2 separate regions of the Homo sapiens genome follow, and region 1 is linked to region 2. The links come from fine-mapping of genetic effects on gene expression. A gene starts in region 2. The other region holds a variant in brackets. All regions are shown on one strand. Distances are between the middles of the regions.

What was found.
Region 1: its variant is fine-mapped to the expression of PHACTR1 in whole blood (INTERVAL, PIP 0.94).

Annotation. Positions count from the first base shown.
Region 1 is chr6:13,260,810-13,276,096 of GRCh38, reverse strand. PHACTR1 (phosphatase and actin regulator 1) reads right to left here. Exons shown (of 15, transcript NM_030948.6): 11 at 3,182-3,237. TBC1D7-LOC100130357 (TBC1D7-LOC100130357 readthrough) reads left to right here. Exons shown (of 9, transcript NM_001318809.2): 9 at 8,262-9,561. It also overlaps a transcript of LOC100130357 not described here. Among named protein-coding and RNA genes, the nearest start is that of TBC1D7, 60 kb to the left of the region's middle. RefSeq lists enhancers at 1,607-2,806, 3,518-3,617. The variant A/G (reference allele first, on the strand shown) is at 5,950.
Region 2 is chr6:12,710,025-12,725,311 of GRCh38, reverse strand. PHACTR1 (phosphatase and actin regulator 1) reads right to left here and starts at 8,545. Exons shown (of 15, transcript NM_030948.6): 1 at 8,416-8,545; 2 at 7,569-7,803; 3 at 6,465-6,613. The coding sequence starts at 6,567. All of the region lies in intron 1 of LOC107984015 (a long non-coding RNA gene), which reads left to right.

The DNA.
Region 1 (15,287 bases), 550 kb before region 2:
CATTAAACTAGTCAGCCATTAATAGCTCAGTATGAATTAATCTAGTAGAGATAAACTGGGGGGCAGACAGCAACACCCGGAAGTAGGGAGCCCCCAGACAGTGACATTTGTACAAATGCAAATTTCAGTGGGATAAAACCTATTAAACTAGTCAGCCATTAATATCTTAGTATGAATTAATCTAGCAGAGTTAAATGGGGAGGCAGACAGCAAGAACCAGAAGGAGGGAACTCCCATTTTGCGATGTCTCAGGTGGGAAAACGGATGGAAGAAAAGGTGGTCTGGATGTTGGGTCACCAGGGACAGCTAGAGGGCACACGGTGAAAATTTACAGAAGCACAGAATACTAGGGCCATGAGGGGACCTAGTGACCACCTCGTCTACCACTCCTGGTTTATAACTGAGGATCTGAAGCCTCAGGGGTGTTAAGTGGCCAGTCACACCCTACCTGGCTCAGTGGTTACACAGATAGGTTTTTTCCTGTGGTCATGTTTTGTGTGGGGCCGGCTCTCCTCCTCATTACTAGCCTCAGACTTCTGATCCTACAGGTCCCTTCAGAGCCGTGAAGGCGGGCATCCTGTGACACAGCTGACACAGCATGGAGCCTTCATCTCCTATGTGCGTTTCTTAGGTCACTCTGAGGGGTGGGGCCACAAGCTACCACCTACAGAATTGATACCTTTAGTTCAAAGCCATTGACCAACCCAGGTTCATGAATTTTCAGGCAGAAGGTACCAAGACAACCCCATTAGGCAACTAGGAAGACAGGCCAGGAAAGGCCTACGATGTCGTCATTACAGCTGCCACCGTCAGAGGGTTCATTATGTGCTCAGAGGTGCACAGGGCCTCACTGGCTGCTGGACAGAACAGGGGCTGCTCCCAGGACCAGGCAGGGTGGGGCTGGAAACCAACCCAAGGCTCTCAAAGCTCCAGGGCTGAGCCATGGCATCTCTGTGCCCTGTTCCCCACCACCCAACACCGAGCAGTTCCTCAAATGGCTGAAAGCTCAGAAAATCAGTTTTAAAACAAACTATTGGAGGATGTTTTCTTATACCACTAGACATTTTTTTTGTTTAACAATCGCAATAGATTAAATTTAAAAAAATATTTAGGAGAACATAGTTCCAGAATACAGGGAAAAATAAGAACCTATGGGAAAACAAGTTGATTTCTGAAAAGTTTCAAAACTATGAAATGACCAACCTGTTAGAATTGGTCAAGTAGTTCTTTAATTTGCAACTATGTGGCCAGGACAAGAGGGATTAGGGAAGAGAATAAAAGAGAACCATGGGAACAATCTTTCACAACTCCTTTTTGGTCCCCTGAATCTAAGTTCCCTGGTTGATGGCGGTAAAAACCCAAGCTCAAAGGACCTGTAGTCTCCCAGGGATCTGGACAAGCCACAGCGGGGATCTGATATCTTTGAGAGAGCCCAGAGCTGAGCTAGGGGATTTTAGATCTCTCCAGAAACCGTACTCCTGGTGTGATAAGCACTATTTTCTGAAACCTAAATAATCCCCCGGAGGCTTTTAGCTTCTTTGAGTTTAGGTCTCAGGTCAGAGGCCACAAGTACAGCAGCGGGCTGTGAGTAAGTTGTACAGGTTCACCTGGCTGTTTATCTTTCTCTCCAACAATGGGAAGTTTATAATGGCTCAGGTACCAGATTGGGGCCGAAAGGAAGACATCCTACAAGCCAAATGCTTCCCTGACCTTGGAAATGCTTTGAAAAAGCTCTGAATTCATTATATAGAATATTAAGCTTGGAAACTTTAAAGGGTACCCCTTGGGCAGAAAAAAGTAAACACACATTCCTAGAGACCTAGGCAAAGCGTAGGGTTCCCCCACGACTGAGGAAGGCTAATCCTGAAAATAACTTCTACTGAGAGTTGAGGAAGTGGCGGCTGGCGTGGGGACGGGAGGCAAGACATTGATAAAGGCAGAGTTGACATAAACGGACATGCGGGGGCGTCGGGCGGGGGTGGGTGCTGTAGGCAACAGGTCTCCCCACCAAAGCGGAACCCAGCACCCACCTTCAGCAGACTACGAAATGCCGACCAAGTCACAAGGCCACAGTGAGCACGGTAGAAAGGTAAAGTCAAGAATATCTTAGTGTGGTTTCAGTGGAAATTCCCGGCAAACTCACACTGCGGTTGCATGTGATTTACTGGGCACGGGGCGGGGCGGGGCGGGGGGGCCGGGGGAGGCAAGGAGTCAGTCTGTACAACATAGCATTTCTAGAAAACTCTGCATAGTATATATCTTTCTCTTCTGGAGAGAAATTAGAAGTGTGTTGTGGGGTAGGGGGAACAGGGTCATGAATTAAGCCAGAAATATTTGTTCACTATCTTGAGGCCAGTGTTGGCGAGAATGGTAGCAATGAATGAATAGAATGGTTTGATATTTAAGTTATTTAATATCTACCACTAAACTGACGCATACTGCTGTCCATCAAATGCTTGATCTCTTTTAGTATTTTGTATCCTGTTTTCTCTTTTTTTTTTTAAAGCACCAAGTGGATCCTCTGTACATATTCAAATGTCTCTGTGTCCTAAACCAAACAAGGGGCTCATTTATTTTTTTCTGTCTGCAGCAATGGTGAAAGGCAGTTTTCCTCGAATGAGAGCATCAGACAGGCATGCCCGGGACCAGCTGTGGGAATCCTGAGAGACAGACATGAAGCACTTCACTTGGAAATGCTTTCTTAGTCTTTCAATTTAACATTCAAAGGGATGAGGGATTTTTATCAACAGCAGCCAGCTGCAATGCAAAGTCATGCTTTCTAGTCTCAGTTCAAATGGACATTTCCCTTATTTTAGCCGTGCATATCACAGTCTCCATTTTCAAGCCAATTCTGGTTTAAAGGTGACCCTGCTCTTAAAAATCATTAAATAATAAGTGGTCTCACTCTAATTTTTCAGCTTCTCTCTGACTTTACAACTCACTAAAAGGAAGGTTCTGCCTGCCGCCCGTGAGCTTCTAAAGAATAAAGTGGAATAAAATTTGCCTTCTCTTTGGGGAGGTCGTCTTTGGTGTTCTAACATGCACACATGAAGCTTCAACCGTTAGAAAGGTTTTCAATGCTTTCCGCAGAGGCGCAAGGTAGAAACCTTGTGGCCTACCATTAAATAATAACAAAAGCCGCCACAAAACATCAGGGATTGCCATGGGCTTAGTCACTTACGTTTCAAAATGTTCCTCTGTTCCAGTTCCTCTGCAGTTGGCCTCTGGCTCAGCCGCCTACGGAAAAAATCCAGGAAAAGTTTTTGGACCATATCATAGCCTCCTTGGGTCATTAATTTCCTCGGCCCTTGCAGATACATGAGACAGTCAGTGGCTGGAGTTCTTGTTCCATCCTGTGCTCTGAAAGACTGACTCTCGCCACCACCGCCTCCTCAGTTCCTCAATTTCAAGCCCAGGAGAGGCACGTGCGTCATGTCACAGCCGCTGACCCCCGCCCTCCTCCCTGCAGCGGCCCCTCCCCAGCCCCATCTCCTCCAGTGGCCCCAGGCAAGTGGACTGCAACTCAGACGGGACTCTTTTCTTCACAGAAGTCCTTTTCTTTCCTTGTGGCCTCCTAACTTGGGGACTGTGGCCTCTTGCCTCTCTCTCCCTCCCTTGAGGCTAAAGCCTGTCTCCTGCCTCTTCTGTGCAGACCCAGTTAGAACATAAAGAGGTCTGTGGCCCCGGGGACATGTGAGAGAATGTGTCTGTCTGCAGAGAACAATGGCTGCTCTTCTTCTGGTCCTGCTCCTCTTATTTCGGAGGCTTAGAAGACATGAGTGGCAAAGGCACAGAAATGATACTTCTGTGGCCAGGCGTGAAATTTAGCCACCGTACATGAAACATCATAGCCAGGGCATGAGCCTGCAATGACGCAATGGGTGGAGGCGGGACAGGCAGTGGATGGCACGTAGTGACAGAAGTAGCCAGGGAACGGGCATGGCATCTGAGGGGAGAATGCCTGCATTAGGTCCCAGGAATGACTGACACGGACTCAGGAGCCTGAGCAGGAACAGAGACATCTGTACCTTTGAAGCTTTTGGTAATTATTTAACAACCTGCAATTATCCGGCATTCCACTTCACCCATTGGGATGAGGTGTGTGAGAAACTGAATCATTGTAGAAGAAATTTTAGGCTTCTCAGACTCCTCTATTGGGATCTAAGGGGTAGAAATGATGCTCTCCTAGTTGAGGAAGTTGCAGTCCCTCCTTGGGTATTAGAAACTGGTGTCTATAGTCGGCAAGATGTTCACATCTTGAAATCTAAAGAGAGATCCTAGAGTGAAAATATCAAGTCAATGAAGTCTCCAAACCTAACTACAGTTGGTCCTCTGTGTCCATGAGTTCCACATTCTTCGGTTCTACCAACTGCTGACGGAAAATATTAAAAAAAAAAACAAACAAAAAACAATAGTCTAAAATTATTGATATAGCATTTATCTTGTATTAGATATAAGTAATTTAGAGATGATTTAAAGGATATGGGAGGATACACATAGTTTTTTGCAAATACTACGCCATTTTATACAAGGGACTTGAGCTTCCTTGGATTTTGGTATCCAAGGGAGTCCTGGAATCAATCTCCCAGAAAGGACTATATTTTTAATTCAAAGCTTGTTGTCATTTGTGTTTTTGTTTATTGTGCTGGGCCAGAATCAATTGCTTCTGTGACATTCCCGTGTCACCACCACACATCCTATATAGGGAATGGGCTTCAATGTCTCATATAGTTTGGATATTTGTCGCTGCCCAAATCTCATGTTGAATGGTAATCCCCATTGCTCGGGGGGAGGCCTGGTGCAAGGTGCTTGGATGGGGAGCCCTCATGGCTTGGTCCTAGCTTCTTGACAGTGAGTTCTTGCAAGATCTGGTCATTTAAAACTTTGTGGCGAAACCCCGTCTCTATTAAAAATACAAAAATTAGCCGGGCATGGTGGCACATGCCTGTAATCCTAGCTACTTGGGAGGCTGAGGCAGGAGAATCGCTTGAACCTGGGAGGTGGAGGTTGCAGTGAGCCGACATTGCGCCACTGCACTCCAGCCTGGGTGACAAAGTGAGACTGTCTCAAAAAAAAAAAAAGAAAAAAAAAAAGCATGTGGCAACTCCCTGCTCACTCTCTCTCTCTCTCTTGCTCCTGCTTTTGCCATGTGATGTGCCTTCTTCTCCTTCACCTTCCTCCATGATTGGAAGTTTCCTGAGGCCTCCCTAGAAGTCAAGCAAATGCCAGGGCCATGCTGCCTGTATAGCCTGCAGAACCATGAGCCAATTAAACCTCTTTTATTTATAAATTACACAGTCTCAGGTATTCCTTTATAGTAATGCAAGAATGGCCTAATACAATGTCAGAGAAAGGATTTTTGGTCATATACCTGCTTATAAAGCCTATAGCACCCTGAAACTGTTGGAAATTGCATTCCAAAGTGTTTTTAAGAGTATAAGAACATTTTCATATTTATTATTCCTTTTCAAAATATCCCTGTGGTATAATATAAAACATATTTATCTTTGACCCAGTTCCTATCACAGAGCACCTAAAACCCCTGGAATTTCTGGGGTGTCAGGAGTGTATTTTGTTACTTGGAATGAGTCCCTTTGGATTACACCAGAGTTTGTGCTAATTAGGTGACTTAGGATGGGGCTGGCCACCAGAAAGAACACATAGTTAGAGGCCTGGAGCTTTCAGCTGGGAAGCAGGAGGGTGGGGGGCTGGAGGTGAAGTTCTATGGAAACTCTTAAACCACAAGATTAGATGAGCTTCCAGGTTGCTGACCATGGGGCTGGGGGGCACTGTTGGGAGGGTGGCACCCAGAGAGTGCACAGAAGCTCTGCCTCTCTCCCCCAATACCTTGCCCTGTCCATCTCTTCATCTGGCTGTTCATCTGTAACCTCTGTAAGAAACTGGTAAAGTAAGTGTTTCCCTGAGTTCTGTGAGCTGTCTTAGCAAATT[A/G]TTTGAACACAAAGAGGGAGTTGTGAGAACCCCAGTTTACAGCTAGTGGGTCATAATATAGGTGACAACCTATGACTTGGTATTGGCATCTGAAGTGGGGGCAGTTCTGTGGGACTGAGTCCTTAACCTGTGTGATCTGACACTGTCCCAGTAGAAAGGGTCAGAATCAAATTGAATTACAGGATGTCCAGTTCATGTCTGCTGGAGAATTGCTTGGTGTGTGGGGAGCTGCCTCACACAGAAATGTGTGGGGTCACAGAAGTGTGTTAAGTGTGAGAGTAGAGTGAAAAAAAGTTTGTTTTTTTCTTTTTTTGAGACAGAGTTTAGCTTTTTTTGCCCAGGCTGGAGTGCAGTGGTGCGATCTCAGCTCACTGCAACCTCTGCCTCTCGGGTTCAAGCGATTCTCCTGCCTCAGCCTCCTGAGTAGCTGGGATTACAGGTGCGTGCCACCATGCCCCGTGCTAGTTTTTTGTATTTTCAGTAGAGACAGGGTTTCACCATGTTGGCCAGGCTGGTCTTGAACTCCTGACCTTAGGTGATCCACCTGCTTCAGCCTCCCAAAGTGCTGGGATTACAGGCATGAGCCACTGCTCCCAGTCAAAGTTTGTTTTTTCTCTTTGCAATCCCATTAAGACATTTTTCATCCCCATTGACAAGGGCCAGCTGTGTATTTGGAAATTCACAATATTAGGGGGTCTAAATTTGGATGCAGTAGTCTTTGAATTCTTTCTAAAATAGCATTCTCACGCTGCAGGAGGAAAGCGATGATTATGCAACTGAGTGAGCCGGTGTCAGAGGTCTGGAATGCAGCTTACCAACTCCACGTTGAAAGATCTTAACAGCTCTTTCTCACCTGCCAGTTTATTTTCCCTAAAAATACTTGCTGCTTTTATAAGAGATGCGCAGCCACTTTTATGGAATGGTTTGGTAATACCCAGGCTTTAAGTCAAGCTAAGTTTTGGGGGCAGAATGTTTTGAGAAAGCCTTGTAAATGTGGGTGGCGCCTACATTTGGAGATCAGGCCAGTGTTTTGGAGTCTTATGCGAAGTGTCTGCAGACTACATTGTTCCCTCATCAGCTTTGACGGTGCCATCCCATTGATCTCATTAGTGAACATGACAACTGGCTCTGTGGTGGCCTCCCCTTTTTTTTATGGGTGGTCATATTTGGAGGGGGCAAAACTGAGTGACTAGACTCTGATCAGAGAAAATTCTGTTATTAACTAGGCTGCTTTATAGTCAAACACTCATAATTTCAAATGAGTTCCTCTGTTTGTGTTTCATTTCTCTGGAAAGCGACTGAGAACATCAAGACTAATCATAGCTATAACATGCAGCTGAGCCCGCCAGAAGGGCCTGTGCTATAGTTAGTTGTTTTGACCTTGAAAATGAGATTTGGGAGGAAAATGATATGGTGGCATTGTAAGGACAAAGCACTAAGTAGCTCAGGAGCTAGGAGGTTTGGGTTCTAGTCCAGGCTCTGCTCTGAACCTATTTACCTCAGACAAGGTATCAGATCCTGCTAGGCCTATGCTCTTTTCTCTGCAAATCATAAATACTAGTTTAATAAGCTAAGGCTGATTTAATGCCTATAATGTAAGGGTATGGTTCCAAGCACTGTACATATGTTAGTTCATTTAATCTTTATCTTAAGATTTTTAACTGAATTCCAGTTGCAAAGTCTCCTTTGCCCTGGGACGTTACATATTCATAGATCTGGGGATGAGGATGTGGACATCTTGTGGAAGGGTGGCCAATATTTTGTCTGCCATAACTATGATACTTTACTAGTCAGAGGTTGCAAACTGATGCCTGGTGCACTGGATTTGACTCTATCAGTTCTCTTTGGCATGCTCAGAGGTTACACTTTTTTCTCTTTTTTGAGACAGAGTCTTGCCCTGTCACCCACGCTGGAGTGCAGTGGCACAATCTCAGCTCACTGCAACCTCCACCTCCCAGGTTCAAGCGATTCTCCTGCCTCAGCTTCCCGAGTAGCTGGGATTACAGGTGTGTGCCACCACGCCCAGCTAATTTTTGTATTTTTAGTAGACATGCGGTTTCACCACGTTGGCCAGGCTAGTCTCAAACTCCTGACCTCAGGTGATCCACCCACCTCGGCCTCCCAGAGTGCTGAGATTACAGGTGTGAGCCACTGAGCCCAGCTGGTTATACTTTTTTTGAGCCTGAATGCCTTTAGACAGAGTGTGTGATCAAATTAGCCCTCTCCCCAGGCCTCACTTATGTAATACAGGTGAGCACGCTCACATCTGTCCTGCTTTTTTTTTTTTTTTTTTTTTTTTTTTTTTTTTTCAGATCATTCCTGGACCCCCGAGGGCCTCTGAGTTTGAGACGCTGGCTGAGATCAAATGATAAGAATTCCAATTTTTGTTTTCCTAAGTCTTTCATCTGCTAATCTACCCAACATGAACCACGGGCCACATGAAGGGCCAGACACATTCTTAAGCGGCTCACAGCCTAGAGGTGCACATCTGTGATTACAATGTGCAAGGTAAAACTGGATCAACAGTTTCCAAGGACTGGCATGTAATAAAATATCCTCAAAACAACAAGCAAGTTGGGCGTGACTTAGACTTTCACTGCCCATGTAGAAGGCACTGTACATTCTTGCAGCATCTCAGTTGGCCAGCAAGAGGTGAGTCAGAAAAAAACCATTCAGCAGCCACATGGAAGTGGGGCTCACTGGGCACAAGGCAAAACTGTGAAGAAGATAAAGTGTCTGTGGTTCTGCATTGACTCTATTCCCTGGAGTCCTCCCCTCTCGAGTTCCTAGAATTATGTTATCACTCTTGCTCTATCTCATTCCTATCAAGACCTGTTTTAGAAATGGGTGCCACAGACTCAGTTACATTCAAATGTAAACCCATTCATTCATTTAGCAAGTTACTTATTAGTGCCAGTGCTGTGTCAGGTTCTACATTAGGTACCAGAGTACAGTGATGAGCAAAACCAGTCCCTGCCCTTCTGGAACAGAGAAGACTGGAAGAGGATGGGGGTAGCCATTAATCAAACAGTCACAGAAATGAGTGCAAAATGTAGCTGGAGTAAGGGCTTCCATGGTGAGGCACTTGGTGCAGGGATCTCTGGATCTGACCAAATCAGGAGGTCAGGAAAGGCTTCCAGGAGGAAGTGACACTGTGCCCAGAGCTCAGGGATGGAAGAAGGATGCTCCTTCTGGGCAGAGAGTAAGGAGAGAAGATTGGTGGGAAGGAGGGCAGGGGCCAGATGCCGTGGGTGTGATTTGGATCTGTGTCCCTGCCAATCACATGTTGAATTGTAGTCCCCAGTGTTGGAGGTGGAGCCTGGTGGGACATGATTGGATCATGGGGGTAGTTTTTCATGAACGGTTTAGTACCAACCACTTGGTGCTGTTCTAGTGAGTTGAGTGCATTCTCGCGAGATCTGGTTGTTTAAAAGTGTGTAGCACCCTTCCCTCTTGCTCCTGCTCCTCCAATGTGAGACTCCTTGCTTTCCCTCTGTTTTCCACCATGATTGGAAGCTTCCTGAGGCCTCACCAGAGGCAGATGCCAGCATCATGCTTCCTGTGCAGCCTGCAGAACTGTGAGCCAATTAAACCTCTTTTCGTTATAAACTACCCAGTCTCAGGTATTTCTTCACAGCAGTGTGGGAATGGCCTAATACAGATGCTTCCGGGACTTAGATCTTCTTTTTCTAGGAGCAATGTGAAGCCGTTGAAGAGTTTAAGTTTTAGGGTGTGAGAGGGGAGGAGTGAATGAAATGATCAGACTTACAGTGGAAAGAGATCATGCTGGTTATTATATGGAGAAGGGATTGGGGGAGGCAAGAGGAAACCCGAGCAGAGGCTTTGGGAGGCTTGGCACACCTGGTAAGAAATGGTGGAGGCTTGGGCGAGGCTGTGGCAGTGATGTGCAAGCTCTTAGGAAGTCAGGTAGCATATGTGAATGGACAGGAAGAAGCAGGTGTACAGGATATCTCCTTAGGTTTTCTAACTCATGCAACTAGATGGATGGGAATGCTGTTCACTGAGGCAGGCACACTGCAAGAGAACCAGCGTGTTTGTGAAGGAAGAGTGGAAGAAAACCATGAATTTGAATTTGGATCTGTTACATCAGAATGCTCCTGAGACATATGAATGAAGCTGTCATGTAGGCAGCAGGATACATTTAGCTCAGTGGAGAGGAGAGGACTAGGCCAGTGATAGAAATCTGAGACTAGTCTGCAATATAGACAATATTTGAAGCCATGAGTATGGAGAGAGTAGAGAATGGGAAGAGGCGAGGGCTTAGGATGGAACTTTGCCGAATTCCAGTATTTAATGCATGGACTAAGGAGGATGACCCTGCCATGGATTCTGGGGAGGGGAGTTCTTGGAGGTAGGATGAGGACTAAAATGTCATATCATGGAAGCAACGTAATGGGAAAGAAAATATAGTAACTAATGCTAAGGCTTTCTGAAGTGGAGTCGAAGGTTGCAAGAGGATCGCACTCACACCTGCTGAAGGTCAAACCCAGGGGATGTTCCAATAGACTCGGTCAAACAACTGAAGTCAGCATCTGCTGGCCTTCAACACCTCAGCTGAGAGTACTCTCATTAACTAACCAATCACAACGGCTTTGTGATTTAGGATTTCTGCCTGGCCAATGAACTACTTCCGAAAATAACTTTTTATGACAATCCTCTATTTTAAAAATTCTCTCCTGCAGCCTGCCTTATAGGGCACTCTTCAGGGCTGCCCTGATCCGGTGTACCCCAGCTGCCATTTTTGCTTCCCAAATAAGTGCCTTTGACCTGCATGTCAATCTTTTCGTTAACAGTAAGATGATAGGTATGGCCCACAAAGAGTTCTGAGAGCTGCTGTAAGGTTAGATGAGGCCTGAAAAAAATGCCCACTGGGTTTAGCACCATGGAGGCTGTTACTGACAACACCTAGAGCCCCTTCAGTGGCGTGGCAGGAAGAGAAGCCAGATTGGAGAGGGCTGAGGACAGGGGTGGAAAAATGGATGCACCGAAGCTGGAGGACTTAGCCACGAAGCCTGGCTTTGAAGCGGGTGAGAGAAGTAGAAGTGAAGGAGGCTGTGGTGGAATTTTATTTTATTTATTTTATTTTATTATTTTTTTTTTTTCAGAGATGGGGCCTCACTCTGGTCACCCAAGCTGGAGTGCAGTGGCACCACCTTGGCTCACTGCAGCCTCAACCTCTCGGACTCAAGTAATCCTCTCACCTCAGCCTCCTGAGCAGCTGGGACTATAGGCATGCACCACCATACCTAGCTAATTTTTAATTTTTGGTAGAGACGAGGTCTTTCTGTGTTGCCCAGGCCAGTCTCAAACTCCTGGGTTCAAGCTGTCCTCCTGCCTTGGCCTCCCAAAGTGCTGGGATTACTGTTATAAGCTACCACACCTGGCCAAATTGTATCGTATTTTTTTCTCAGATGAGGGCTCACTCTGTGGCCCAGGCTGGAGTGCAGTGGTGCAAACTCGGCTCACTGCAACCTCTGCCTCCCAGGTTCAAGTGATTCTCCTGCCTCAGCCTCCCGAGTAGCTGGGATTACAGGCACATGCCACCACACCAGCTAATTTTTGTATTTTTAGTAGAGATGGGGTTTCACCATGTTGGCCAGGCTGGTCTCGAACTCCTGACCTCAGGTGATCCACCCACCCTCAGCCTCCCAAAGTGCTGGGATTACAGGTGTGAGCCACCACACCCAGCCCAAATTTTATTTTTTTAATGGATGAAAATGGGGCATGTTTAATGGAAATAATCCAGATTAGATGGTGGGGGGTGGAGGGAGAAGCTGAATATATAAAAAGGGAAAGGCCCAATTGGTAGTGCATGAGTCCTGAGAAGGTAGGAGGGCTTGGGATCCAAGGGATGGAGGTAGCATTATTTTTGAGTGGAAGAAGAACAGCTCTTTACTGGGACAGCAGGGAAGCAGGACAGAGTGGGTTGCATGTAGATTTGCAATGTTCCGTATTGGAATTATAGAAGAGTTCCCAATTGATAGCTTTTGCTTATTCTTTCAAGTTGAGATACACTGAAGATGACTTATTTTAGTTTAAAATTTTACCATTCACTGGGAGATTTGTCTTTGATCAGAGACAAATTCACAAACCCAAAGCATAAAGCTCCAGCTTTGGAATTCTAGTCATCAAAATTTTCGGGGGACACCCAGGGCATCTTGCCATCTTCACCAAGCAAAGCAGCCATCTGCTTGGCTCATTTTATGATCGATGTACCTGGTGCATCTCTTAAGTACTGGTTAACATAGAAAGCTGAGCAGCAGAGCACGACGACGTGGTCACCTGTATGAATCATCCCAAGGAGCTGCTAACTCCAAGAATCAAAGTCAAGATGCCTCCTGAATATACTGTATCTCCTTTGCTCCCACCTTGCCAGTAGATTTAACTAGTTGTATCTGATTAAAACTAACATTAAATTAAACAAAATTCCTGACTGTATATCTAAACGTGATCACTTTGCTAGGTGTCAAAGGCAATGATTTTTGGAGATAAATTTTTACATAAAATGAATCATCCAAAATTAAATGTTTAATGTACTTTCAAGGGATCTTAAGTAGCTTTGCTACTATATATGTGACCCTGGTTTATAAAATATGTCTGAGCAGCAAAATGGTTTCCATGCCTCAAATGGTTTTTTCTTTACCATGGACTATGGCTAAATGATTCAGTGAACTGAAAAAATCTCTGGGTTCCTGTTTAAATGCCACATGCTATCAAGTGCTGTATGTGAGCCTTCTATTTTCTTTAAAAATTTAAGAATGGATCTTGCCTTTTTTTTTTTTTCAGTCTGAACAATGCTGTCTCTACTGGTGACCATAAGAAATAATCAAATAAATTGAAGTTTTCTTTTTGCATGGAAAGACTGAAAAAAAAAAAAAAAAAAAAAAACACTAAAAGCCCAAAATAAAGGACACTTCAGTTTTGACCTTGGAAAAAGAAGACTGGTAGAGAATGTAGTGGCAAGATGCTTTAAATGTATGCAGAGCAGGCAGCATTGTCTTTGCACATTACAGCATCTCCCTAGAGAAGTGACAAAACCCTTGTAGGTTTTGTTGGTCTGACTTGTTGAGGCTGACAGAGATTAGTTGTGCTGCACAGAGCTAATGGGCTTTCTGCCGTTTCCAGAACACCAAGGTCACAGCTTTCATTAGCATTTACAACTGCTTATTGTTTTGAGGGCCTTGATTTTAAAGTCTGGATCTCTGAAACTGTATCTGCATTTCAGGACAAAGGAAAAACAGAATTAACTTGGGTTTTCTGCAACTCAGCACCAGAGAAAGGTAACTGCATTTTCAGACAGATGGAAAGAGGAAATGCAAAAGTCCTCACAGAGAATGACAGAAAATAAGATCCTCTCTCCAAAAGTAGGAGGAGATGGGGTTTTCTAACAGGTATCCAGAAGTGTAGATGGGCTTGGTGGGATCAGGGGAAAGGGAGAAGCACTGAATTCTATCCCCTCTACATCCTTTGGAAACTTCCTCCTGAGAACCTATGAGTTCCATGAGGATTGGGGCATTTCTGTCTGGCCTTGGTTATTACTACATCCCCAGTTCCTAAGAGAGCATAGAGAGCATAATAGATGCTCATTTAGTAACTATTTAACCCAGATCCCACCAGTTCAGATGCCACACATGCTCCTTGGATGATCTCATCAACACTCATGACTTCCAATAGCATCAATATGCTGATGATTCCAAAATCTAAACCTCCAGTCATATTTTTGAGTTCCTGGCCACCTTTCTAACTGCTGTCTTGTACTCCTATGGGCCATCAGACTTAAAGGGTCCCAAATGAATTAACTCATCTTCTTCCCCCATACATCTTCCTCTCCAAGTGGTCTTGTATGGAGTCCTAGTGAGATGCCCAGGCCATGAAACTGGGAATCATCCTGTCTGAACTTCACTCTTGATGGCCAATCAACCACCAAGAGTCCTATATCCAAACCATCTCTGATTCCATCTACCACCACCTTGGGGAAGCAGTCCATCAGCATCTCTCCCAGTTGCTGCCAGCCTATCCCACTCTGGTCCTCCTCCAGCCCATACAGAATGATCTTTCTAAGGGACCGATCTGATCACACCACTCTGTGCTTGAAAAGTAAGTATGCCTTTACAGTGCTCACAGGACAGAGTCAAAACACTCAGTGTTCTGAAAGATTCTTCATGATCTGGCTACCTGCCTGTCAAGAATCTGCCCATTCTGTCCTTCACCCAGAATGATCTCTTCTTGGTTCCTTCCAGATTTGCATGCCCTTCCTCATAGCCTTACCATTCTTTTCCTTCCTCTTTGTCTGTCTAACTGACAATAATCCCTAACGTTACAGCTTAAAGCTTCAGTATCACTTCCTCTGTCTGCAAATCTCTTGGTTTAGGTGTCCTACAGTGTGCAACAATATTCCTGCATGTTCCATACCCCAGTGCTTGTTTTACTTTCTTTTATTGCCTGTCCTATTCACCAGACAACAAGGCTTACACTCTGTGAGGCCAGGGCCACCTCTGCCTCACTTAGACAACCAGGGATAGCTTCCTGTCCATAGAATCTGAGCAGGTGCACAGAACACCCTCCTACTCCACCCCTGCACAGAAGGGCTTCCTGCTTGGGGTTTAATGCTCTGTTGCCATTTCAAACTTTTCAATATTTTTTTATCTTTTGAACAAGGAACCTCTCACTTGTTCACCATGACATCTGCAGAGCCTAGCACAGAGTCTGGTAACTGGAGATGCTTAATGTTTGTGAAATAATTAAATGGATGCTACTTGGTGACTTTTCCTTACCTTTAACCTTTACCTCTTTCTTGGTTCTTTCCTTAGGGCAAACAACTGTATTCTCCATTAGAAATAAAACTCTTTAAAACAACAACAAACGAACAAAGCTGTCCTCCTACGCCAGCCTCTTCCTCCAGCTCACCCCTCTCACCTGTCTGCTCTTGGCTGCCAGACCTCTCGAAAGGGTGGTCCAGGCTCGAGGTCTCAGTAACTCTCCAGTCTGGCTTCTGTTCACACAGCTTTACTGTGCTGGTTCTCAGCATGGGTGATTTTGCCTCCTAGGATGCATTTGGTAATGTCTGAAGTTATTTTTGGTTGTTGCGATTGAGAGGGTGCTGTTGGCATCCGGTAGATAGAGGCCAGGGTGCTAAACATCTTCCAATGCATGGGACAGCCCCCACCACAAAGATCATTCAGTCCAAAGCATCAACAGTGCTTAGGTTGAGAAGCCTTGCTCTACTGAATCAATTCTTGATAAGGTCATCGATGATTCAATTGTCTAATCCAGTGGCCTTTTGGAGCCCTTATTTTACTAAACCTTTCTCTATTATA
Region 2 (15,287 bases):
CTACCAAATGTCTTTGTCTCTTGGGGCCATGTTTGAAGTCCTAGAGGTTTAGAGTCAGGTTTAGAGTATATTTAACTCAAAGCTGAAGACTCAAAAGTCAGCTGCTCTGACCGATTTCACAGAGTGGGCAAAGAGTGGAGGTGGGTGGAGGCGTGAGGGGAGAGACGGGGTTTGGATGAATTCCTCTGTATTTCCAAAAACAACTTAAAGAGACTCTTAGCTGCTCACTGTGGCATTCATCAGTTGTCAAAACTGGCATTTCCCTTTTTTGAACAAGACAATGTAGATGACAGAAAAGGTGCATTATGACAAGTAACAGTGACGACTGAGCCTGGTTCTAATGCCGAGTGTTATTTTAAATGATAAAAGAGGGGAAATCATTAGCAGGAGTCACTAGGATTGCCTAGTGACTTTTGTCATTTGGCTGCCTTTTAATGTATTTTCCCTTTAGAAGGTAATTTGAATGTCCGAGTATATTGATGGTTTTTGAGAAAAGAAACCTCACACAGTGGACAGGGTATGGATGTGATAAAATGATATCTGGTTCTGTCTCTGCTGTCCTCTTTTAAGCTGTGTGATTTGAGTTCCCAGCAGAATGACTCTGAGCCACAGCTTGACCATCCCTGGAAGTGTGGTTTGGTCAGGGAAGTTACCTTTGCTGATCTGCGGGGTTGATTTGATCAGTCTAACTAGATGAGAGGTTGCCTCTGCCTGGCAAGCAGCATGAGACAGCTTAAACAAAATAGCTTGGGCTTTGGAGATGGATATGTTTGAATGAAAACTCTGACTCTGCTGTTGTCTAAATGTACAGCCCTTTCAAGATACTTCACCTCATCAGTCTTCGGTTTTCTAGTCTGCAACATGAGCATAGGATTCCCGCTTCCCAAAGTTCCTTTGAGGGTTAACAGATACAATGAATATACAAGGGGCAGCCCTTGATACAAAGTCATTTTTATTTTTATTTTTATATATTTATTTATTTTTTGAGATGGAGTCTCGCTCTGTCACCCAGGCTGGAGTGCAATGGTGCGATCTCGGTTCACTGCAACCTCTGCCTCCTGGGTCCAAGTGATTCTCCTGCCTCAGTCTCCTGAGTAGCTGGGATTACAGGTGCCCACCACCACACCCAGCTAACTTTCGTATTTTTAGTAGGGACAGGTTTCACCATGTTGGCTAGATTGGTCTCGAACTCCTGACCTCAGGCGATCTGCCTGCCTTGGCCTCCCAAAGTGCTGGGATTACAGGTGTGAGCCACTGCGCCAGCCCATAGTGCTTTTTAAAAGTCCATTTGCATCTTCCCCATGGTTCAAATTCATTTAAAGTGGAAGACCTAGATAGAGAAAGTTATTCGGGGAAGAATAGCTGCATGATGCTGAAACCTTTTACTATGAAACAAAGGTCAGTAGTTGTCAGCCCTGGCTCCACATTTGAATCTCGTGGGGGCAGTTTAAAAGATTACCGTGTGTGGGGCTTATCCCCAGAGATTCTGATTTAATTGGTCCATAGTGGACTCTAGCATTTAGGTTGTGAAATCTCCCAGGTGTGGCCTATAATCCCAGCATTTTGGGAGGCTGAGGTGGGAGGACTGCTTGAGGCCAGGAGTTTAAGACCAGCCTGGGAAACATAGCAAGATTCTGTCTGTAAAACTTAAGAAATTAGCCAGGCATGGTGGCATGTGCCTACAGGTACTTGGGAGAATGAGGCTGGAGGATTGCTTGAGCCCAGGCGTTTGAGGCTGCAGTGAGCTATGATCCTGTCACTGTACTTTAGCCTGAGATGACAGAGCCAGACCCCTCTCTCTCTCTCAAAAAAAAAAAAAAAAAGAAAAGGCCAAAACAAGGATTCCAGGTGGTGTTTGTAATGTGCACTGAATTCAACTGTTGCTTCTCAAACTTTAATATAAATTACCTGGAGATTTTGTTAAAATGCAGATTCTGATTCTCTAGGTCTAGGGTGGGGCCTGAGATGCTACATTCCTAACAAGCCCCAGACGAATGAATGAAGCTGGTGCTGTCAGTCTGGGATCACACTCTGGGTAGCAAGTGACTGACGATCCATAATGGTGGTTCTCAAGCTCCAGTATTCATCATAAAAACCCATGGGCTAGTTGAAAAAATGGCACTGGAGCCTGGGGCTGGCCCTCCCAGGGTCTGTTTCTCTTGGCTTAGGAAGAGACCTAAGACAGTCCCTGGCCTATAATGTCCATTTTAACCTAAAAATCTCATGATGTTAATTTTGTGATTTTATAATATGTCTTCTCTTCAAGTTCAATTGTTCACTACAAAATTACAGAGTCTGAAGTTGAGTGTGTGGGGTAGCATTGTCAGAAACCTGAAACACAGATGAGCTCAAATTATGTGATGCCAAGACATGATATTTGAAGCCATGTGTATCTCTAACCTCTGGAGTTCTCCTTTTCAGTTAAAGGGGACTTCCGCAGAACTCCCTTCGTGTTAGGATTTACCATTGGCAAACGACTCACTAGTTAATCAAGAGAGCCTCCTTCACTGACAGGAGGCAAACAGGAGGACCCTGTACATTTTCTGCTCTCTGCAACACATCATACCTTCTAAAGCAGAATCATGAGAGAGGCAGCTGATCTCCCCCACCTTGAGGTCCAACCAGGGGAAAATGGAGGTGGGAGAAGATAACAGGTTCTTTATTCAGAAGAATAGATCAGGCACCTTTGAAAATCTCAGGGAATTCCAAAAGAATTTTTCTCATGATAAATTGCCTTTTTCCTTCTTTTTCTTCTCACCCTCCTGGATTCCTCTTGCTTTAACTAGCTAAAACGTCCTCTATTCAAGGGAAGGCTATTGCCACTTTCCAAGAAAAATCTAAAAGAAACAACTCTGTGTGGATCAAAAACATAATTCTGGCATTGTTGCTTTGGATAAAGATTTTGCACATGACTAATACAGAAGGTGTTATCTTCCTGGAACTTTATGAGTTTGTAAATAAATTGATATGAGGCTGTCATGTGGGAAATGAGAGAGGGGAACTCAGATTTTCTTGCTTTTCCCTTTAAAAACATTTACATCTGTAAGAACACTTGATCAGTCTATAGAAATATCTGCATGACAGTGAGAATAGACTACTCAAAAATGCAATAATCACACAACAGTTTAGCCAACCAAGCCTTAGGTCACCCAAGTTTTATATACTTAACCCCATACTGTACTTTCAAGTTGGCCTTCTTTTTAGAAGAAGTAATCAAATTGGGGCTACTTGGCCTTACTAATATCCTCTGCACTGGCTGGACTGGCCAAATAGAGAACTGCCATGTGGTGGAGTGATTCAGCAATAGCATGAGACCCTAATTGTCTCAAATGTGTTTCTCAAGAGCTGGCCGCCAGCTTGCCCTCCTTCACTGGTCCTCGGAGCCTTGCCGTTGGTTCGATACAAGCTTGAATCCGGCCAATGTGTGCATCTGGTTTGGATGGGAAGGGTGCCGGCCATGGTACTCAGGCCTTCACCCATTCACTGTTCCTTTATTAGGCCTAAGGGGTGCTGGTTGTCCAGGACAGACTGTGGAATCTGTGCAAAGGGGAGGGAAGCTACAGTGGAGGAACCCATGCAATGCAGTGCCAAGCCCCAAGTAATGGTAAAAGCAGAACTTGAGAAAGGAGCCTCCCAAGGTGATAGGTCCTGTGTGCTGGGGATCTAGGGAAGGTGTTGGAGGGAGAGGGACTCTCATCTTTAAAGTGAAATGAAGGACAAGACAGATGGAGAGCAGCAAGATGAGCTATTTTTCAGTTATGCCCTGAGTTGGGTTTTGACAGGACAAGAAATGAATCACTGCATTTTTAAATGTATTTAAAATTTCTATTTTTTGTGGTTGTTGCTAGAAATAGGTTTAACTTTTTAACTTTTATCAGGCCACATTTCTTGTTTGCAAGGCAGTGGCTTCATTGTGAAGTTTTTTTTTTTGACAGAATCTCACTCTGTCACCCAGGCTAGAGTGCAGTGGTGCCACCCCCACTCACTGCAACCTCCGCCTCCCAGGTTCAAGCGATTCTCCTACCTTAGCCTCCCGAGTAGCTGGGATTACAGGCATGCCACTGCGCCTGGCTAATTTTTGTATTTTTAGTAGAGACAGGGTTTCACCATGTTGGTCAGGCTGGTCTCGAACTCCTGACCTCCAGTGATCCACCCGCCTCGGCTTCCCAAAGTGTTGGGATTACAGGCGTGAGCCACTGTGCCAGGCCCATTATGAAGTTTTAAACAGAAGAGGATGGGCTTTTGCTGGGATTTTTACTTTATTGATTTGCTCGTGTGTAGCATTTCTTATGTGGCAGACACTGTTTTAAGCCCTTTAAAATCTTACCTCATTAATGCTCTTAACAACCTGTGAATTAGGAACTATTACTGTTTGCATTTTGCAGAGGAGCCTGCAACCACTATGTCATCCTGCCTCTAGTGTTGAGTACAATGTTCCTGTTGTGAGGTGGAAGAGGAGAAAACGGGATTAGGTGGACTGGTTCGTAAATACTGTCCCTAGACTGATGAACTGGCTAGGTAGCCATCCCTGGAGCTCTTGCTTAAAATGCAAATTCACAGGCCTTACACCAGGATATCTGGTTCAGGAAGACTGGGGGTTTTGAAACACTGACCTAGACAATGTGTGCGGGAACCCCCGCCCCTCCTGCAAATCCAGGAATCCTTGATTGAAACATCATCTGATTACTCTAATACGAACATGACTCCAGGGAGCAACAGTAGCTTATGCTGCCACCTCCCATGCATTTTCTAGTCCTTCCAGCTCCGGTGTCTAAACCACAGTCACTGATGGTGACAATTCTGACCACTCCACCCCCAGCTCCATCTGCTGAAAACCAGAAGGCTGCCTTGAGTCCTCCCGAGCCTCCCACACACTGCCTGCTTTCCTTCCGTAAGATCTTGGAGCCCACGGTCTTCTTAAAGGCTTAAAGCATCCCCACAGCAAGACAAAATGGGCATCTTTATTCTCTATAATTAACTGCTGCCCCCCTTTCTGTTTTGCCAACAGCTATGCGGTTCAGCGGGATGACCCCGCTACGGAGCATTATTGTCTCATTCCAGTCGAATGGACCAATCACATAGCAATGTGTGACCTTGAGACTGGAGAAGGAATTGAGCCTAACTTCATCCCCCACCCCCTTCCAACCTCCATTCTACCTCTACTTCCAGCATTTTCTTACTTGCAGACCCAGAAGAGGTTGGAGGTCCTGGCCAGTCTCTCACTCTTTTCCTTCTTCACTCACATTTTTATGTGTCTTTAAGTGGCTGGGAACAGCCATGTTGACTCCATACACCCAGAAGTTTGAGGAGAGTTTGCTATTACATCACTTCTGCTAATTTCAGCTCTGCTGTTGAGCACACAGACCTCAGCAAATCAACCAGACCATTTCCAACCCCTCTTGACTTTAAGAAGACTGGGTCATGCTCTGAGAAATGAAAGCAGAGAAGGAGATGGCTTGCAAGCCCCCTGAGGTTACCACGATAAGTTGGCTTGAGAGGGAGGTAAAAGCAATTCAGAGGACCACTTGGGAAAGCCCAGACAGGATATTATCAGTGGCGTGTGTAAAGTTCCCATCACCATCTAAAGTGAAAGATGCCAGAATTATAAAAACTGACTGCATTATCTTCTCAGCTCTGCTTTGTGACTTCTAAGAATTCAACTGCTTTTCTATTTTAAAATAGGGACATTGTCCTCCTTCTCAATGCATCACCTGTATCATTTGGGACATGCCCATCATCAGGTTGCTTTGACTGAACACCTTAAACATTTCATGGAAAACAGAAAATATGTGAAAAAAAAAATCTCCTCCTAGTCACGAGATCCCATATAACACTCCAGCTTCTTCTTTAATGTGGTGGAAAAACATTCTAAATACCCCAACAGAAGGGCAAGAAAACTGGAACCTAACTGACCATCTTGAAACATGTAATAAAAACGGACACATCAACCACACTTCCCAAGAGGCTTGCTCCCTGAATGTACACTAGTAATTATCTGAGGCGGTAACTGAATTCAGCTAAAATAGAGAAGGCAGCTATAGAGAAGCTCAGCGCTTCTCTCAAGAGCCCCTAATCCTGCTGGATTCCAGTCCACTGGGTCATGATGCCCTAAGATTTCAAGAGCTGTGGCTGCAAACTGGAAATTCTCCAAGGGGAAGAGCATTCTTGATTCTTTTTGGACATAAGTGTTGGACACAGGTGGTAGGAAATCATTTCTAACATAGCTTTCTGAGGGGCACTTACACCAAAAGTTGGGCATTTTTTTAACCACATCCAAGAAGTGTGGATTTATTTATTCTATTATATACCTGCCTCAATTCCAGCAGCAGTTTGGTAGAGGTTATCAACTTAGAAATACCGGTTATTAAACTTTCAGAGCAAGGCTTTAACAGCTACAGCCTACATGGCTGTTCATATAAAACCGACGTGCAAATAAGAGGAATTTCTTTTTCTTATTTTATTACCTTGAGCTCCTTGACTGTAGAAGAATCTTTGAGCTGACTCAACATCCAAGAGTCTGTGAGCAGACTCTACATCCAGAAAATAATCCATTTTGGGATAATCCATCCTTGATGTTCCAAACACAGAGTTTTGAGAGAAAACACTGGAACACCTATAAAGAGGAAAAAAAAATCCACAATATTTTAGACGTCAAGTATAAAGTGTATATATAGATGTACTTTAAAATGTTTGAATAAGAATATCCCATTATAATATTCTACTACTTGATTGACATTTGCAATTCTAAAGCCACCCCCCAGCATAGCTTTCCTACCGTGTGAGAAAATGCCGCATTTAGCCAACATTCATTAAAAGTAATATATTCTACTCAGGAAAAACAGATGATCTGATCTAAAGAGAGATAACATACCAGCCTTTCCTTGCTTTATATTCTCTGGAACATATACTGTTAAATTCACATGCTATCAGTTTTCAAAAGGTCTATTTGATAAATAGCGTCATTAAGTGTCAGCCGTTGTGAGTGTTGATCCTCAGCTCATCCTGGGACTTTCGGATTCCCCTGGAGCAGGGAAAATTGCCTGGGAATCCGAGCCTCCACTCATAGATGCCGTGCGTTTATGACACACACTGACATATTTGCTGTACAAATGCTTTGAATTCCTTCCTTTCCGGCGATTCCCTTCAGCACATTTTATAAAGTGCTAGAGGATCGTCACCTGCCTGTGCCTGGCAGGGGCTGATTTTTGAGAAACAATTGTGGTTTGTAGAGCAGCAAGAATGATTGCAGCATTACAGTGATCCCTATATTATCATACACTAGCCTGTCACAAAGCTAATATACTTCCCCAGAAAACATTCAGCCTGTTGGGTTCTTTTTTCAAGCCTATGTAGCCTTTCCCTGATACTCACACAAATGAATTATCTCTATTTCTGCAGAATATTTTTTTGGAAAGAATTAACAAGACAAAGTCATTAAAACCAAGCTTGGAAGTCTAATCCAATTGGTTTCTCTTTCTAACAGTATGTATTTTAATTTAAGAAACCAAGTCCGGTAAGACAAAACTTTTAAAAATACCCAAAGGTACCCCAATAGCAAATATACTTACTGCAAAAAATAAAAATCAAAGGCTATCTGTCAGCGGTAAAACAAGAGCCGTTCCAGCCAGAGTGTCTTTGATCTTGCTAAATATTCCCGGTGAAAGTAAACGATTTTGATTGTTTGATTAGAACAGTGATGAATAATGCATACAGTCCACTGGACTTCCTTTATCAGATAAAATGGCCAGAGCACGTTACCTTAGCAACGGAAGGTGACGCCAGCCTCAGCCTCTGCACCCTCCCCTGCGAAGGGAGAAAATTACCAGTTTCCCGTGTAAAACTTTGGCAGAAAATCATCAAATCCACATGCATACATCATGCAGGGCTATTCCCCAGCCCCCTATCTCTTAGGCAGAGAAGTGCCATAGTCATTAAAAAAAAAACAAAACAGATTTATGTCTTCATTGTTTATTTTCATAATCCCAAATCTTAGTTTGATTTGCAGCTACAAAAGAATAGAATATGAAATGATTAAAAATTTAATATATAGAAAAGTTGTCTAGAAATTTTTGTGGGGGCACCAGTTATTACCCTAATGCTGGCCTAAGAGTGGCAGGGAATGGGGGAGTTTAGGGAAAGGCCATTTTAGCTTAACATACGTTAGACATTCCCCTGTTATAATTAATACACAGAACAGCCACCGGCATCTAGGCTGAAAATAACTCTTCCCTTCTGCAAATCAGTCACTGGAAGAAGCTTAAAAAGCTGTCTGAAATTTCCCAGATTCTGAAAGACATATTATAGCATAGATTTTGTGGGAGATCCCCACTCCCCCCACAACCCCCATCCCCGGCAAAGGAAAATTAGCCAAAAAGATATTTGAAAGGAAGAGTCTGGAAGTTAGCGGATACTCACCGGCACTTGTTGACCCCTTTCAACAGGACACGGTAGAGTACAAAACAAAGCAGTGCGACGCTTCTGAGCCCGCAAGCACAAATGAACAGCTTCTAATTTTCCCTTCAATCTCGCTTCAAGAGCACTGAGCAGAGGGAAGTGATGGATTTGCCCATTTATACTGTGATGAAATGCAACCCTTAAGAAGAGATCTGAGTGGAGCTGCTCTTTAGAACACATTAGACTGCTAATTTAAGAAAATTGAAAGGTTTTGTTTTACTGTCTTTTATGTGTTCTTCTCTGCTACCCCCTCAATTTAATTTGCATTTAAAATTATTCTCATGTCTCCTCAGCTCTCCAAGGTGTGGAGTACTTTCTAATCATGAAGGCTGCTCCAGTAGGGTTTGGTGCAACACCACTTTTATGCTGAGCTGCAAAACAAGGCAGGTAGTCATAATTGTGAGCTGTTTTCTGGAGCGAAATACAGAGGGCACGTTTGATGTCACCCCTTCCCTCTTGCCTGGCTTTCTTCCTTTCCTTGCTTCTGATTGCCTGGTCAAATATCCAGCGCAGATCATGCCAGTCTGCCTAAATGCATTTCTCTCTGTCTGAATGTAACAAAATAATACCAACAACAAAAATAAACTTTGGCTAGTATCTCAAGTTATTCTGGTTTAATATTCTTCCTACCAAACCTCAGTAATGACTTTTAGGCACAGTACTTTGAGATCTTCATGCAGGGCATAGTGATAGCCAAATGCAAGCCCTACTGTGGGTTTTCCACAACCTCTTGCACCCTTTGTTGACCAAGCAGAATTGCTCATTAGTATGGTGTGGTGTACAGTGGGTCAGCTTGTTAAGAAAAGAGCATTTACATTTGATAAGCCTCGGAAGGAAGACCATCAACACCACCCCTGTCCCCCCACTCCCTATACACAGCTCGGCTGGCTGCCCTTGAAACAAACCTGAAAATCCTCTGCTGTTTGTTTTGTGGGGTCTCCCTCTCCCACCCGATCAGAACAGATCAGACACCAAGCCGGTGCTGCAGACAGTTAAGCCTCATGAAAAAGGAAGCTGAAACTACCAATCATATGCCCTTGTAGGAAAGTCAACTATGGACTCTGAATTCTGAAAGCTTTGCTCCAACCCAAGGACTGACTTCTTTAAGGTTACTTTTCTATTCAGCACCCACTGGAGACATGCTGAACACTTGACATTTATAAGAGGAGAAAGCTGTCTTCTGGTTCCTTTTACTTACTGTGAGGTGTGGGCGACAGGTTCTGAACTCGTTATTGTAATTCTACTGAAATTGTAATGACTCATAGATGAGAGAAAGAGAGAGAGAGAGAGTATAAGTCTATGCTGCTGACCAAACCTTTAGGTGAGTGCAAATGAATGTGTGATTGAAGAAAGAGATGCTAAACTGGAAATGTGAAAAATAGAGTTGATTCCCAGGGGGTAGGTGGTGGATTTGGAAGTCAGTCATTTCTGGAGAGTTGACCAAGAAAGAGAAATTTAAAATACTTTACAAAGTGAACAAATAATATGAAAGGGTCGTAATTTAAGAAAACTCAGGAGGGAAAATTTCAACTTAAAGAAATGTATTTGGGGCCGGGCACAGAGGCTCATGTCTGTAATCCCAGCACTATGGGAAGTCAAGGTGGGTGGATCACCTGAGGTTAGGAGTTCAAGACCAGCCTGGCCAACATGGTGAAACCCCATCTCTACTAAAAATATAAAAAATTAGCCAGGCATGGTGTTGGGTACCTGTAATTCCAGCTACTTGGGAGGCTGAACAGGAGAATCGCTTGAACCTGGGAGGTGGAGGTTGCAGTGAGCTGAGATCATGCCATTGCACTCCAGCCTGGGTGACAGAGCAAGACTCTATCTCAAAAAAAAAAAAGAAAGAAACAAAGAAAGAAATGTATTTGGGAAGGGGATGATTATTCATTTGCAAACAGGGACTTACTTTTACTAAATAATTATCACTGTGTTCTGTAGCATCATATGACCAACTTCTGTAATAGATTTTCAAAAAATGATCTCACTCTCTGGGGAATATAGCTATAGATTACATATAGGTGTGTGTGTGTGTGTTCAAAAATTATTTTTAAATATGGTAAAGCATAGTAATGTTCAAAAGCCAATGTCAAAATCTGATTAGCTCAATTCTGTTTTGTAACTTTAAACTGCTCCAAAACAACACTTATAATGGTCTATTGTTCTGAGAAATAATCAGAGAGGAAGGCAAGGTTACATCAAGTATTCAAGCTAACACGTATTCGGCACTGAACAATCCAACCCAAAACATTCTCAAGATTTCAGCTCTGCAAAACTTAATTCAGTGTTAAAATATCTCTATGACCTAGAAATAAAATATTATTTTAAAAATTCCAAAATCAAGTCATATGTTTTACATTGATGGCATTAAAATATGAAAGTGTAGAACTGTAAGGTTGAAACAAATAATCTAGAATTATTAAAAATATGTGAGATGGTAGAGAGATACATACTTTTTTGTTTTTAGTTTGGTTGGAAGAGGATACATATGTGAGTATTCTATACACAAGCAGATGTATTCAATTAATTCAAAACAGAGGTATGCTTCATGATGGAATCTAGAGGCAAGTAAAGATATAAGCTTGTATTTATTTTGGGGGTGTGCTTATTTATTGTGTTAGATGGCAAAAGACCCAAACATTCCAGGAGAGATCACATGATTTGTAAGTAGGTAACTTGCTCTTTTTACATTATGCTGTTGACTTCCATTGGAACCAGCCTGGGTTTATCCTCTTTGCTAAGAGATAAAGCAGTTCTTCTTATTTATAATTTTACAATGAATTTTCCTTGTTTAATTACCTTATATTCCAGAGCTCCCTAGAAGACCATGTTTTATATTTGTGTTGGACTATTGAGGTCTGGCCTTCTACTTAAATGACATCCTGGAGAAGATTCTTTTTCTGCTAATAAACCCAACTAACTTTAACTTTAAAATATTAGAGACTTTCTTAAAGTGTGATGATATGTTGGATCTGTTGGTTTGGTACCTAGATTAATAATCTTTGTTGAAGTGCTAGCGTGCTAGACAACCACAGAAAACAATATTCATTCATTTTTGCAAAGACCTGACCCCAGAATGTTTCAATAGCAGTGGCTCCCTCTGCTTGATAAGTCACTTTACCTCCCAACCCCTCCCTCGAAAGAAATTTCTTTCCTTTTTTTTTCTTTCATTAAAAAAATTAATAGTAACGGGGTCTTGCTATATTGCCCAGGCTGGTCTAGAACCCCTGACCTCAATTGATTCTCCTATCTCAGCCTCCCAAAGTGCTGGGATTACAGGTGTGGCCTCCTTTCCTTTCTTTATAAAGTTTGTCATTAATTGATAGGGGTACTGCAAGTATTTTATCTAAGGCTTTATTCATATTGAAATCTTGATGGCAGAGAAAACATGTTAAGCCATCATCAGTTATTTTGGCTTTAGAGTAATTGAACTTTCAGTTCTTTCTCGTGAATAAGTTTTGATGATACTTAGAAAGCTAAAGAAGGCTGGGAAGACTGGGAAACTGTGTGGAGAAAGAAGTCTCAGGGAAGAGACCTTAATTCTATTCCGTATAAGCCTACAGTCATGTTTTGAGGGCTTCCTTAAGTTTAAGATACCTGGTACTCTGCTGTTAGAAAAGGGCATTAAATTTGTTAGCATCTTCATTTGAACCAGGGCCAAAGCTGCCTTATAGATTCAGAGGTGGATTCATTAATTCTATTCAAGAACGTTGTGCCAAAGGAGTTTCCCCTTGGGCCATCCTCAGTTAGCAGGAAAAGTCTTCACACCAAAACCACAAAGCCCTCTGCTCTTGAAACTGCCCTGGAGACAGCCACGCTGGATGAGGTGCACACTGGACAATATGGTGGGGCCAGGGCCAGGCAGAGGACATCCATTGGCCTCACTTGCTGCCCACTTCTGAAAATATCCTTTCCCTTCTGTTAATACTTTTTAGAAAGGTCAGTTGAGAGAGGAAAGAACAAGAGTTCATATGTCATCTTACCCTTCTGCCAACTGGATTCTAGTAAGTTGATCTTACTTATAATATGAAAATCTTTTTGTTTCAGAGAAAAAAATAGTCAGATTCAGTCCCCATCTCTGTGCCCAGGTCGTTCATCTGGAAATAGGGGAAGGGGGAAATGTTGAGTAAGGAAACAAGAAGTTCTCTAGCAACTCTCTACTTACTATAACTGTCAAATATCTAAATATGAAGACGTTAAGATGACCACCCAATGATGGAGAAGTACATTGACAATAGTAATTTTTTTACATGAATTTTAGGATACATAATAATGATATTTGACTTATTCCCTCTGGCAAGAAAATCACATTGCCCTCAATTCTTTCATTCTCTCTCTCTCTCTCTCTCTCTCTCTCTCTTTCTTTCCTTACTCTCCCCCTCTCTGTGTGTGTGTGATTTATTTTCAACTCTCCTGGAGAAGGCTGACAAATTAGTCACAAGTTCCCTAGTGGGAGGACTAGCCTTTTCCTAGTCCCCCTAAAAATCCAGATAGCAACCCTGAAAATATCCAAACACATATTCAAGAAAGAAAGAACAATAATCTCTAAGAGCCACAAGTCTAATAGACCCTACGTTAATGATATGGCCCTTGAGCCTCCAAAGCACATTGAACAAATAGGACTGAACATAGCAGTGAGAGCTCACAGGGAGGGAGGCAGTGTGGGTCGTATCTAAATAGTAATGGACTTAGGTGACTCATTCCTTTTAGCTTTAAAATACACTGACACATTCTACAGCAAAGTCTGTATGCTTAAATATTAACACTTAATGTTTTTCTTATGTATATGTGCAAAGACATTTGATGCATATCTTTGTATAACAAACAATTATTATTATTCATGACATAGTCCCCAGTTTAATTTGTTGTTCAAAGGTAAATGCTTTTAGGATCTGTCACCTGAAGGCATTGAAGGGTATCATATCACAGGAATTAAGTTTCCAAATCATAATTCTCTGCTCCTCGTGGATTAAAGATAACGGAAGACTCAACTCCTCTCTCCTAAGAGGAATGCCTTTATTTGTCTTTTCTGAAACAAAGAGAACCTTGTTGGTATTCACTGCATTTTAATATATCATAAACATTATCAGTAAATGAAAGAAAAATAATCTGTCATATTTAGCCTCAAAACACTCATTGCTGTATAATGAGCACCAAAGAAATGTTAGCTAATCATTCAGGAGACAATGCGTGAAGTAGTTAAAAATATCATCTAGAGGATCCTAGTTCTGTAGCAGAACCTTGCACGCTAATCTCCTTGGGTCTCAGTTTCCATCTCTAGCAGAGGAATAAAAATCAGGGCCAAATGAGACAACGCAGAGCCTGAACACAGGAAATACATAGGTAGTATTTAACAATAATTTTTGAACAGCCTACATGTATGCAAGGAGTTGAGGGAATAGAGCACCCCTTCCCATCCACTCCAACTGTATCCATCTAATATGTTGAGACATTGCCTCCATCACTCCAATTGCAAATAAGCTCTTAGTCCTCTGAAATTCGGTAGTATTTTGTCTATATCTCTAACGTATGTTGTAGTTAACTATGTATGTATACATGAAGATTAAATGAGTTAATATGTGTGAAGCAGCTGGAGTGGTGCCTGGCTCCTCGTACACACCCAAGGAGTGTTAGATATTATCATTATTTTTCTTCACAGAGAGTGCTTCAAGGCACATTTTTTTTTTCCTGGTGGGCCATATAAAGTAGGAAAGCATTGAGGACCCATGCCAAGACATCTTCACCAAAAGGACATCTGTTATTCTTTTTGCTATCCTGCTTTCCTGAGCGAAGTTTGCAACAGTGAATGACAAACTAGAGCAGAATTTTCATGAGTTCATCTTCTCTTTCCTCAGCCAAATTAAATGACACGATATATGTAGATGCTTGGCACAGAGTGGGCACTTTATACACTGCGTAATTGCACAACAACTGATGTTCTGGCAGGGTGCAGTGGCTCATGGCTATAATCCCAGCACTTTGGGAGACTGAGGTGAGAGGTGAGAGGATCGATTGAGCCCAGGAGGTTGGGGCTGCAGTGAGCTGTGATCGCGCCACTGCACTCTAGCCTGGGCGACAGAGCAAGACCGTGTCTCAAAACGAACCAGCAAAACAACTGAAGTTTTCTATTCTTCCAGGGATTGGTCCACAGATCTTGCCCACTGTAAATGTTCAGGTATTATACATTTATTCATCATTGTTTCATTAGCAGATGATAGTTTATCACTCAATATGTGCCAGACACTGTAAATAGTTGCTGGGAATACAATAAGCTAGTTTGATTCCTTCCTCAGGAGATTACAGTTTAGCCTGAACTTTGATTCTCTTAACTTTTTTTCATGTGAAAGCATACACTGAAAACTATCCTATCTGTAAATGAGCAGAAATGTCTAGAAGCAGTCATCTCCAGGGTCTCAGCCACCAACGACCAAGAGAGAGGCATTTTGGTATGCTGGTTGGGAACCTTTGTGTAGTGTTCAACCTTTAATGTGTTTAATTTCTCCTTAGCTTTTCAAATTAGATGGGAATACAGTACTTAGTTGGTGGTAGGGGAGGAAGGAGTAGACACTCAAACCTGGTACTGTGTTTAATGCTGAAATTGTAGGGTGGCACTCTCATGTCTGAACTTTGAATAGCAACAAAAAGGATTAGCAGGCTGACTGATGGAAAAAAAACAAAACAGAAACATGTACCACCATGTTTTAAACGAATAATCTTTAAAAATGGTTTCAAGAGCTGTTGGTTTTAAACCAATTGATTTTTAAATGTGCTTTCACAGTACTACGATGATAATTGCCTTGAGTGAGTTACCATCCGTCACAGGCTCTTTTGTA